Regions from separate parts of the Homo sapiens genome. Here region 1 is linked to region 2. The links come from fine-mapping of genetic effects on gene expression. Tissue or cell type: cerebellar hemisphere. Region 2 holds a variant in brackets; the other region holds the start of a gene. All regions are shown on one strand. Distances are between the middles of the regions.

The links. PIP is the estimated chance that this variant, and not a neighbour inherited with it, causes the effect.
Region 1: it holds the start of TLE6, and the variant in region 2 is fine-mapped to the expression of TLE6 in cerebellar hemisphere (GTEx, PIP above 0.99).

What each region holds. Positions count from the first base shown.
Region 1 is chr19:2,974,753-2,979,752 of GRCh38, reverse strand. TLE6 (TLE family member 6, subcortical maternal complex member) reads right to left here and starts at 2,189. Exons shown (of 17, transcript NM_001143986.2): 1 at 2,143-2,189; 2 at 1,469-1,555. The coding sequence starts at 1,519. RefSeq lists a silencer at 2,158-2,467.
Region 2 is chr19:3,005,185-3,011,274 of GRCh38, reverse strand. It overlaps TLE2 (TLE family member 2, transcriptional corepressor), which reads left to right. Exons shown (of 20, transcript NM_003260.5): 12 at 115-253; 13 at 1,573-1,733; 14 at 2,330-2,406; 15 at 4,606-4,855; 16 at 5,307-5,554; 17 at 5,691-5,838. Among named protein-coding and RNA genes, the nearest start is that of TLE2, 21 kb to the left of the region's middle. RefSeq lists a silencer at 3,920-4,117 and an enhancer at 4,226-5,160. The variant G/TG (reference allele first, on the strand shown) is at 2,421.

The DNA of each region.
Region 1 (5,000 bases), 31 kb after region 2:
TGGCCAGGCTGGTCTCAACCTCCTGACCTCATGATCTACCCGCCTCGGCCTCCTAAAGTGCTGGAATGACAGGCATGAACCACCGCGCCCGGCCTCTCTTATTTCAGTAAAGAGCATCTTCCATTTTGCACTTTGGCCTAAAGTCTAAAATGTTCACCACATTCTTGTGATGAAAATAGAAGCACAAAATATTTTTAAAAATAAAAGTCCGGGCAAGGTGGCTCATGCCTGTAATCCCAGCACTTTGGGAGGCCGAGGTGAGCAGAACACCTGAGGTCAGGAGTTTGAGACAACCCTGGGCAACTCAGCAAAACCCCGTCTCTACTGAAAATACAAAAATTAGCCGGGCGTGGTGGCGCGCACCTGTAATCCCAGCTACTCGGGAGGCTGAGGCAGGAGAATCACTTGAACCTGGGAGGTGGAGGTTGCAGTGAGCCGAGATCGCGCCACTGCACTCCAGCCTGGGCAACAAGAGCAAGACTCAATAAAATAAAGTCTCTTGGCCAAGTGTGGTGGCTCACACCTATAACCCCAGCACTTTGGGAGGCTGAGGCAGGCAGATCACGAGGTCAGGAGCTCGAGACCAGCCTGGCCAACATGGTGAAACCCAGTCTCTACTAAAAATACAAGAAAAATTTGGTGGTCATGGTGGCAGGTGCTTGTAGTCCCAGCTACTCGGGAGGCGAGGCAGGAGAATCACTTGAACCCGGGAGGCAGAGGTTGCAGTGAGCTGAGATTGCGCCATTGCATTCCAGCCGAGGTGAGTGTGAGACTCCGTCTCAAACATAATAAAATCATAAAGTCTCAAAACAAAATATCCCTCATCTGACTCCTTTACAAAAAAAAACGTCTGCTCAGCCCTGAGAGCCTAAATTTACAAATGGTCATCTCTGGGACGCAAAGTGCAGGGAGCGGGGATTGCTTGTAAAACATCAACCAAATACATGATGTGTTCCTGTGTTTTTATCACATATGTGATTAGATGCTACATTTTTTTTTAGATGGGATCTCACTGTCACCAAGGATGGAGTGCAGTGGCACCATCATAGTTCACTGCAGCCTCAAACTCCTTGGGCTCAAGCCAACCCTCTGCCTCAGCCTCCCAAGTAGCTGCAACTACAGGCCCACGTCACTAGGCCCAGCTGATTCTTCTAGTTTTATTTTTTACAGAGACAGGGTCTCACTACGTTGTCCAGGCTGGTTTCAAACTCCTGGGCTCAAGTGGTCCTCCTGCCTCGGCCTCCAAAAATGTTGAGATTACAGTTGTGAGCCACAGTGTCCAGCCTACACTTAATTTTTTTTAAAAAACACGGCTCCTTGGCACCTGTCTTGAGTGTAGCAGCGACCAGTATTGTCTTCAGCTGCGAGGCCTGGGCGGGGCCAGCCCAGGTCACAGGTGGAAAAGGGGCAGAACCACATTGGGCCCGGGTTTCCCTTGAGGGCTGATCCCACCACATGCCCTCCTCACCGAAGTGCTTTTCGGGGGGCCCTTGGGTCTGGGCTGGTCCCTAGAGGTCATCTTCAAGGCAGTAGCCTCCAAGACTTTAGCCAGAGTCTAAAACAACAAGGAGACGGCAGGTCTTGAGGGACAGAAAATAAGGCAGTGCCAGGGAAGCAAGGCACCCGTTACCCCACCCGCACCTCCCAGTTTGGTAAGTCTCCAGGGACCCAATCCTGCGGTTCTCCCATGCGTTCCCTAGGTCCTGTCCTCACTTATCAATGCCTCCAGCTGCCCAGATTCATGGGGGCGGGGACCCAGAAAGAACTGAGCCTTGCCTCCCAGGCCTCACCCTAGGAGGCTGGGGTGGATAGTGCACATACACTCCCTGCTGGGGGCAGTCAGGGACGGGGGAGCCCAGGGAAGGTCGCCAAAGCTCAACCTTAGTTTTGAGACAATTTCCTAAAGCGCAGGGAGATCACTAGAAAGGGGTTTTGAAGGATGACTAGGAGTTAGCCAGGTGCATTAGGCGGAATTCATCAGACAGAAGAAACGACCTCTCTCCACCTCCATCCCTGCTGCAGCACCCAGCTTCTTCCTTGCCTCAGTCCTGCCCCTCCACGCCCCTGCAGCCCCTTCCCCGGCCGGGAATCCTGGAGTCCCCCCAGCCCCCTAGAACACGCCTGGCAACTCACGTCCCTCACCGGGCGGAAGCTGCGGAGGTCAGCCAAGTTCAGGCCAAGAGGAAACTCCTCCTTCCCCCACCGGGGGCCATTTGACCCATCGGGCCCCGCCTCGTCCCGCCTTGTCCCCGCCCCGTCCCGCCCAGGCCCCACCCAGCCGCCACCTGGACCGCGAAGCAGATCAATGAAGGCGCAGTAGCTGCACGTGGGTTCGGGCTCCGGGGGGGGCAGGCCTCTGGCGGCGCCGGCCAATAGCGAGGCCGTTTACGCACGTGGGTCGCGTACGCCCTCCCTGATTGGTCGGCTCTCCCCGGCCGCCGGCCATGCTGTCACTCAGCGAGCCGGGAGCCTCTGCTTTACCCTTTCGGTCCCGCTGCCGGGAAGGGCGGACTTGCAGAGCTATAGGCAATTTGGGGTCCCAGCGGGGGCGGGGATATTTAGGAGGGCGTGGGGCTTGAGGCTCAGAGGCTGGAACTTGGGCAGGGATAGGTGGCGAGTAGTTGCATTGTTTTACGCATTTTTAGCCTTGTCCGGAAGTGGCTTATGGCTGGAGGTGAGGAGTGGGAGGTGGGTGGGTTCAATCTTTAGCGCTGTCACCCCAATTCTTAGATACGGGCTAATTACATTTTCCTCAATATTAAATAACGTGCAATGCAAACGAAGCTTCAAGTCCTCTTTCTGGAGCCAACTTACTGGGTCCCCTTGATGGTCCCAGCCCCGGGCTATGCATTTATCACCGAATTTTCCCAACTGCTCTTCCAGCCCAGTGACAAAGGCTCTGAGAGCAGAAAGCGGGACAGCAGAGGCCCTGAGGCTGATACAGTATTGCCGGATGCAAGCGCGGGGTGGGAGAGAGTGGTGGGTATTCCAGACGGAGGGAATAGCGGAACCTCTCAGGCAGAGCTGGGCTGGTTACAGGAGCAGCCAGGGAGGCTAACGGGGCTGCGTGCACTCCGAACAGGCCTGGGATGATTTCCGAGAGGTAAGTGGGTTGCTGCAGAGCGAGAGAAACCTGCTGTGTGGGGTCGTGGGGATAGGAGTAAGGGGATTTCGGAGTTTTGTTTTGGCCTATTCAAAATATGAAGCCAAGTCACCATGGCTCACACCTGTGATCCCAGCATTTTGGAAGGCTGAGGTGGGAGGATTGCTTGAGGCCAGGAGTTGGAGACCAGCCTGGGCAACACAGTGACACCGCGTCTCTACAAAAAATTTAAAAATTAGCCAAGTGTGGTGGTCATGCACCTGTAGTCTCAGCTACTGGGGAGGCTGAGGCAGGAGGATGGCGTAAGCCCAGGAGGTTGAGTCTGGAGTGAGCTATGATCGTGCCACTGCACTCCAGTCTGAGCAACAGAGCAAGACTCCATCTCAAAAAAATATATAGCTATAATATATATAAAGTATATATATTATATATATAGTGGTCAAGCTGCAGTTCTGGAGTGAGAGCCCGTTTCTTTCTGTTTGGCCCAGGACCTGGTACTGGCATTAGCAGTTCACTCTGCCAGGGACAGTCTCTCTCAGACAGCCACCGGCTGGCTCCTTACTCCCTCAGCTCCCTACTTAGAAATCACCACGTTGGGCCAGGTGCTGTGGTGCACGCCTGTAATCCCAGCACTTTGGGAGGCAGAGGTGGGTGGATCATCTGAGGTCAGGGGTTCGAGACCAGCCTGGCCAACATGGTGAAACCCCAGCTTGGCCGGGTCACACCTGTAATCCCAGAACTTTGGGAGGCCGAGGCGGGTGGATCACGAGGTCAGGAGATCGAGACCATCCTGGCTAACACGGTGAAACCCCATCTCTAATAAAAAATACAAAAAAATTAGCCGGGCGTGGCGGTGGGTGCCTGTAATCCCAGCTACTGAGGAGGCTGAGGCGGGAGAATGGCGTGAACCCGGGAGGCGGAGCTTGCAGTGAGCCAAGATTGCGCCACTGCACTCCAGACTGGGCGACAGAACAAGACTCTGTCTCAAAAAAAAAAAAAAAAAAAGAAAACCCCAGCTCTACTAAAATACAAAAATTAGCCAGGCATGGTGATAGGCACCTGTAGTCCCAGCTACTCTGGAGGCTTAGGCAGAAGAATCACTTGAACCTGGGAGGCGGAGGTTGCAGTGAGTCGAGATTGTGCCACTGCACTTCAGCCAGGGTGACACAGCAAGACTCTGTCTCAGAAAAAAAAAAAAAAAATCACCACATCAGGCCAGGCGTGGTGGCTCACGCCTGTAATTCCAGCACTTTGAGAGGCCGAAGCAGGAGATCACTTGAGGTCAGGAGTTCCAGACCAGCCTGGCCAACATGCTGAAACCCTACCTCTACTAAAAATACAAAAATCAGCCGGGCACGGTGATGCACATCTGTAATCCCAGCTACTTGAACCTGGGAGGCAGAGGTTGCAATGAGCCAAGATGTCGCCATTGCACTCCACCCTGGGCGACAGAGTACTCTGCCTCAAAAGAAGAAAAGAGTTCATGACCAGCCTGGCCAACATGGCAAAACCCCATCTCTACTAAAAATACAAAGGTCAGCTGAGTGTGGTGGCAGACGCCTGTAATCCCAGCTACTTGGGAGGCTGATGCAGGAGAATCGCTTGAACCCGGGAGGTGGAGGTTGCAGTCAGCCAGGATCGTGCCATTGCACTCTAGCCTGGGCAACAAGAGTGAAACTCCATCTCAAAAAAAAAAAAAGAAGGGAGGGAGGGAGGGAAGGAAGGAAGGAAGGAAGGATCTCATTGAAGAGACCTCCCAACCCTCCCTTCCCTTCCCTATATTTCCCTTTATTTCCTCTTTTTTTTTTTAAACACAGGGCGAGGGGGAGGGGAGTCTCAGTACATTGCCCCGGCTGGTCTTGAACTCCTGACCCCAAGTGATCCTCCCACCTCCACC
Region 2 (6,090 bases):
ATTACAGGTGTGAGACACTGCGACTGGCCGCCCCCAACCCCAGTTTCTGATCAGATCGTTGGGCCACAAGACACCAGGTGCCTGGTGGCCTTCAGTCCTGCCCTTTCTCTGCAGAATGACCTTCCCGCCAGCACTCCTGCCTCCAAATCCTGTGACTCCTCCCCGCCCCAGGACGCTTCCACCCCCGGGCCCAGCTCGGCCAGTCACCTCTGCCAGCTTGCTGCCAAGCCAGCACCTTCCACGGACAGCGTCGGTGAGCACCTTGCCTGTTGGTGCCTGTCTGGAGCAGGCCTCGTCTCTGGGGAGATCTAGGAAAAGGGGCTGGAGAGGCAGAATGCTGGGATTCCAGGCTTGGTGTTCATTGCCTTGGTCCTTTTTGTGACTTCAAGTTAGACGCTGCCTCCCTCTGGGCAGTTCCTCATTGTGTCAGCTCGGCGGGTAGGGAAACTGAGGCCTGGAGAGTGGAAGCGGCTTAGTCGGGGGTTTCAGCCTAGTGCACTGGAAAGACAATCTTTGGGGCCAGACAGACTTGGGTTTCAGACCAGGCTTGGGCATTCACCAGCTGGGTGACCTCGGGCAAGTGACCCAACCTCTCTGAGCCTCAGTTTCCCCATCAGTAATCTGAGGAATGACAGTGCTCATCTTTTCTGCCTTATGGTCAGGCCCTGGGCTGGTTCTGGGGCCCCTGAAAGAAGCTGGCCTTGGAATCTGCCCTCAAGGAACTCCCAGGTGGCAAAAAGGGACAGGACCCAGACCCCAAAACTCACAGCCCTGTATAGTCAGGGCTGGTACCAAGGCAGGTACCCAAGATGGGCAGGGCTGGAGGTTGGCAATGGGGAGGCTCAAGGATGTTTCTGAGATGTTAATGGACATTGGGCCTGGGTTTTGTTTTTTTTTTTCCTTTTTTTTTGAGACGGAGTTTCACTCTTGTTACACAGGCTGGAGTGCAATGGCACCATCTCAGCTCACTGCAACCTCCCGCTCCCAGGTTCAAGCAATTCTCCTGCCCCAGCCTCCTGAGTAGCTGGAATTACGGGCATGCACCACCATGCCCAGCTAATTTTTGTATTTTTAGTAGAGACCAGGTTTCACCATGTTGGTCAGGCTGGTCTTGAACTCCTGACCTCAGGTGATCCGCCCACCTCGGCCTCCCAAAGTGCTGGGATTACAGGCGTGAGCCACTGTGCTCGGTGGGCCTGGGTTTTGAAGGATGGATAGGAGTTTGCCAATTAAAAGAAGGAGAATGGCCATAGTCCCAGCTACTCAGGAGGCTGAGGCAGCAGAATTGCTTGAACCCAGGAGGCAGAGGTTTCAGTGAGCCGAGATCGCGCCACTGAACTCCAGCCTGGCGACAGAGCAAGATTCCATCTCAAACAAAAGAAAAAAAGAGAGAGAGAAAGTCGTGTCCACTGGAGGAACGATAGTGCAGAGGTCTGGAGGTGTCCCAGGCTATGGCCAATGTGGAACCAGCACATGGAAACTCTAAATGAAAGGCCAGGGAGCTCCCAAGGCAGTGGGAGGCGGGATCTGGGTCCAGGGCGTCAAAACCTGTCCCCGACTCTTCCGTCTCAGCCCTGAGGAGCCCCCTGACTCTGTCCAGTCCCTTCACCACGTCCTTCAGCCTGGGCTCCCACAGCACTCTCAACGGAGACCTCTCCGTGCCCAGCTCCTACGTCAGCCTCCACCTGTCCCCCCAGGTCAGCAGCTCTGTGGTGTACGGACGCTCCCCCGTGGTGAGTCCTTGGGTGGGGGCGCAGGAGGTGTCAGCAGGGCCCAGGGGCTGGGGGCCGGGAGGAGAAACCAACTACACAAGGAGAGACAAGGGAGTGCAGAAAGGGAAGGGAGCCCTGGCTCAGCAAGTATGCATGGGAAGACAATCTGGGGGTCTCAGTAGTCCCACAAGCTTAATACAAAGCAAGACTTCTGATTGTGGAAAAACGCAACAGCGATTAAGCTGCATGAAGAGGAGCAGTAGGGCCTTGGCCTCGGGACACTGTTTACAAAAACAGGCAGTGGACCAGATTTGTCCTGGGAGGGGCTGGAGTTTTCAGAACCCTGGCCTAGAGCCAGTCTGGGCATTGGATGGAGAACCCTTCAGGATCCTTGGAACCGTGGAGTTCTAGGATTTCCTGGATAGAGATTTTGGTGTCGGTGTGCTCAAGTGAAAACCTCAGCCCTCTCATCTGTAGTGTGACAGGCAGAGAGAAGGCATCTCTGCTGCCTTGGGGAGGGGTGATAAACAGAGAGGGGTATGGCAGGTGGGCGTGGGGTGGCACAGAGGTGGGTTGGAGTCACCTGCCTCACTGACACCCCCCTGGCATTCTCACAGATGGCATTTGAGTCTCATCCCCATCTCCGAGGGTCATCCGTCTCTTCCTCCCTACCCAGCATCCCTGGGGGAAAGCCGTGAGTACCAGGGT[G/TG]GGGCTCCCTGCCTGGGGTCCCGGGCCAGCCCCCCACCTCCTCTGAGGTCTTACCCTCTGTGGTTGGGGTCTCCCTGCTTCCCTTCTAGAAAGTCTCTTGTGTGGGCCGGGCACAGTGGTTCACTCCTGTAATCCCAGCACTTTGGAAGGCTGAGGCAGGTGGATCACTTTAGGTCAGGAATTTAAGACCAGCCTGGCCAACATGGCAAAACCATGTCTCTGCTAAAAATACAAAAATTAGCCGGACGTGGTGGCGGGCACCTGTAATCCCAGCTACTCGGGAGGCTGAGGCAGGAGAATCACTTGAACCTGGGAGGTGGAGGTTGCAGTGAGCTGAGACCGTGCCATTGCACTCCAGCCTGGGCAATAGAGCGAGACTCAGTCTCAAAAAAAAAAAAAGAAAAAAGAAAAAAAGTCTCTTGCATAAGCTACTCAGAGTTCCACTGGCTCTCCATAGAAGTAGACTCTGACCCCCCAGGGGACACTGGGCGATGTCGGGGGACACGTGTGGTTGTCACAGCTGGGGGAGGAGACGTTCCTGGCCTGGAGTGTGGAGGCCAGGGATGCTGCTTAGCATCCTGCATTGTCCAGGATGGCTCCACCAGAGGAGATCTGGCCACAGTGTCCACAGAGCTTTCTGCAGTGATGGAAGTGTTCTAGACCCACTGCTGGCCAACCCAGTCGCCACCAGCTGGGCGTGGCTTTCAGTACTTGAAATGTGGTCAGTGCAACTGAGGAGCTGAAAAGTTTTGTTTTGTTTTGTTTTGTTTTCTGAGACTGAGTTTCGCTCTGTCCCCCAGGCTGGAGTACGGTGGTGAGATCTGAGCTCACTGCAACCTCCACCTCCTGGGTTCAAGCGATTCTCCTGCTCCAGCCTCCTGAGTAGCTGGGATTACAGGCACGGACCACCGCCGGCTAATTTTTGTATTTTTAGTAGAGACAGGGTTTCACCATGTTGGCCAGGCTGGTTTTGAACTCCTGACCTCAAATGATCCACCCACCTTGGCCTCTCGAAGTGCTGGGATTCCAGGTGTGAGCCACTGTGCCGGCCTGAAAATGTTTATTTAATTTCAGTTCATTTAAGTGTTTTAACTGGTCACAGGTGGCCGGGGCTCCTAGGACAGACCCTCTAGCTGGTCTGGAACACTCAAGGTTTCTTTGTGGGTCCTCGGTTGAACGAACATTTATTAAGTGCTTGTTTACCATGCGCCACACCACAACCTAGACTCCCTGTGTATTTGTGCCACCCACTGACTGTCCCATATCACCTTTGACCACATTGTCCTGCCTTTTTCCTAAATCAGAGGCCGAGCACCATGGCTCACTCCTGTAATCCCAGTGCTTTGGGAGGCCAAGGCGGGAGGATCACTTGAAACCAGGAGTTTGAGGCCAGCCTGGGCAACATAGCAAGACCTCATCTCTACAAAATAATAACAGAGAAAATTACTTTAAAAAATGCATCAGAGGCTGGGCCCGGTGGCTCATGCCTGTAATCCCAGCATTTTGGGAGGCCGAGGTGGGAGGATCATTTGAAGTCAGGAGTTTGAGACCAGCCTGAGCAACATGGTGAAAGCCCATCTCTACTAAAAATACAAAAAAATTAGCCAGGCGTGGTGGCCTGCACCTGTAATCCCAGCTCCTTGGGAGGCTGAGGCAGGAGAATCACTTGAACCCCGGAAGCAGAGTTTGCAGTGAGTCCAGATCACGCTACTGCCCTCCAGCCTGGGTGACAGAGCGAGACTCCATCTCAAAAAAGAAACAAACGCATCAGGCTGGGCATGGTGGCTCACGCCTGTAATTCTAGCACTTCGGGAGGCCGAGGCGGGCAGATCACTTGAGGTTAGGAGTTCAAAACCAGCCTGGCCAACATGGTGAAACCCTGTCTCTATTAAAAATACAAAAAACTTAGCCAGGCATGGTGGCGCATGCCTGTAATCCCAGCTACTCGGGAGGTTGAGGCAAGAGAATCGCTTGAACCCAGGAGGCAGAGGTTGCAGTGAGCTGAGATCGGGCCACTGCACTCCAGCCTGGGCGACACGGCGAGACTCCCTCTCAAAAAACAAAACAAAAAATAAAAAACACATCAGAGGGTGCCAGGCAGGACAAAGGCGTCTCCCTGCCCTCCCAGGTGCGGGTGCGGGGGCGTGGTGCCCAGGGCTGGGTCATGCCCCGGCTTTCTCTCCAGGGCCTACTCCTTCCACGTGTCTGCGGACGGGCAGATGCAGCCGGTTCCCTTCCCCTCGGATGCACTGGTAGGCGCGGGCATCCCGCGGCACGCCCGGCAGCTGCACACGCTGGCCCATGGCGAGGTGGTCTGCGCGGTCACCATCAGCGGCTCCACACAGCATGTGTACACGGGCGGCAAGGGCTGTGTGAAGGTGTGGGACGTGGGCCAGCCTGGGGCCAAGACGCCCGTGGCCCAGCTCGACTGCCTGGTGAGGGCGGGGTGGGACAGTGGGCGGGACTCACAGGTGAGGGGTGGGGCTTATGTTCCAATGGGGCGGTGTTCGCAGGCTGGCCGTGGGTGGGGCTACAGGTGAAGGGCGGGGCTTATAGGTGAGGGGCGGAGCTCGTAGTCGCATGGGACAAGGCTTGCAGGCCAAAGGGGTGGGGCTCTGGCCAATCTGAATTGGACTTGCAAGACAATCAGGACAGGGTTTGCAGGCCAACCATGGGTGGGGCTTATAGGTAAAGGATGGAGCTTATAGTCAGATGGGGCAGTGTTTGCAGGTCAAAGGGGCGGGGCTCACCAGCCAATCAGGGTAGGGCTTGCAGGCTAATCAGGATGAGGCTACATTGGGCTCCAGAGACCCCCACGTTGAGCTAGGCTCCTAGAGACCTCACCTGGGACCAACCCCCAGCCCCTGCTTCTCTCCCCGACCCCAGAACCGAGACAACTACATTCGTTCCTGCAAGTTGCTGCCGGATGGCCGGAGTCTGATCGTGGGCGGTGAGGCCAGCACCTTGTCCATTTGGGACCTGGCGGCGCCCACCCCCCGTATCAAGGCCGAGCTGACTTCCTCAGCCCCAGCCTGCTACGCCCTGGCCGTCAGCCCCGACGCCAAGGTTTGCTTCTCCTGCTGCAGCGATGGCAACATTGTGGTCTGGGACCTGCAGAATCAGACTATGGTCAGGTGGGTGGCAGGTGCGCTGGGACCTTGGGCAAGCCCCCGGCCGCTCTCGGTGCAGGGGGAGTGGAGGAGTGTGACCTGGGACGATGCTGGGGCAGCTCGAATTCCAGGATGGACGCCTGGGCCCTTCTCCCTCCAGGCAGTTCCAGGGCCACACGGACGGCGCCAGCTGCATTGATATTTCCGATTACGGCACTCGGCTCTGGACAGGGGGCCTGGACAACACGGTGCGCTGCTGGGACCTGCGGGAGGGCCGCCAGCTGCAGCAGCATGACTTCAGCTCCCAGGTGCTGTTCGGTTCTGGCAGGAGGGGGATGGAAGCTCTAGGAATACAGCATCCCTTCCTCTCCTTGTGAGGTGCCCACTTCCAGAGGCAGGACAGGACAGGACTCCCATCTGCTGTGGTGTCCATCTTTCTTGTCCCCCAGACACATCCACAGGCTTCCCCTGTAACTCTCTAAAGATGTAGGGGAACACAAAAGAGCTGATTCATAGGAAGCTGTGGGGCTACTGAGACCCCCAGATCATCTTCCCCACCT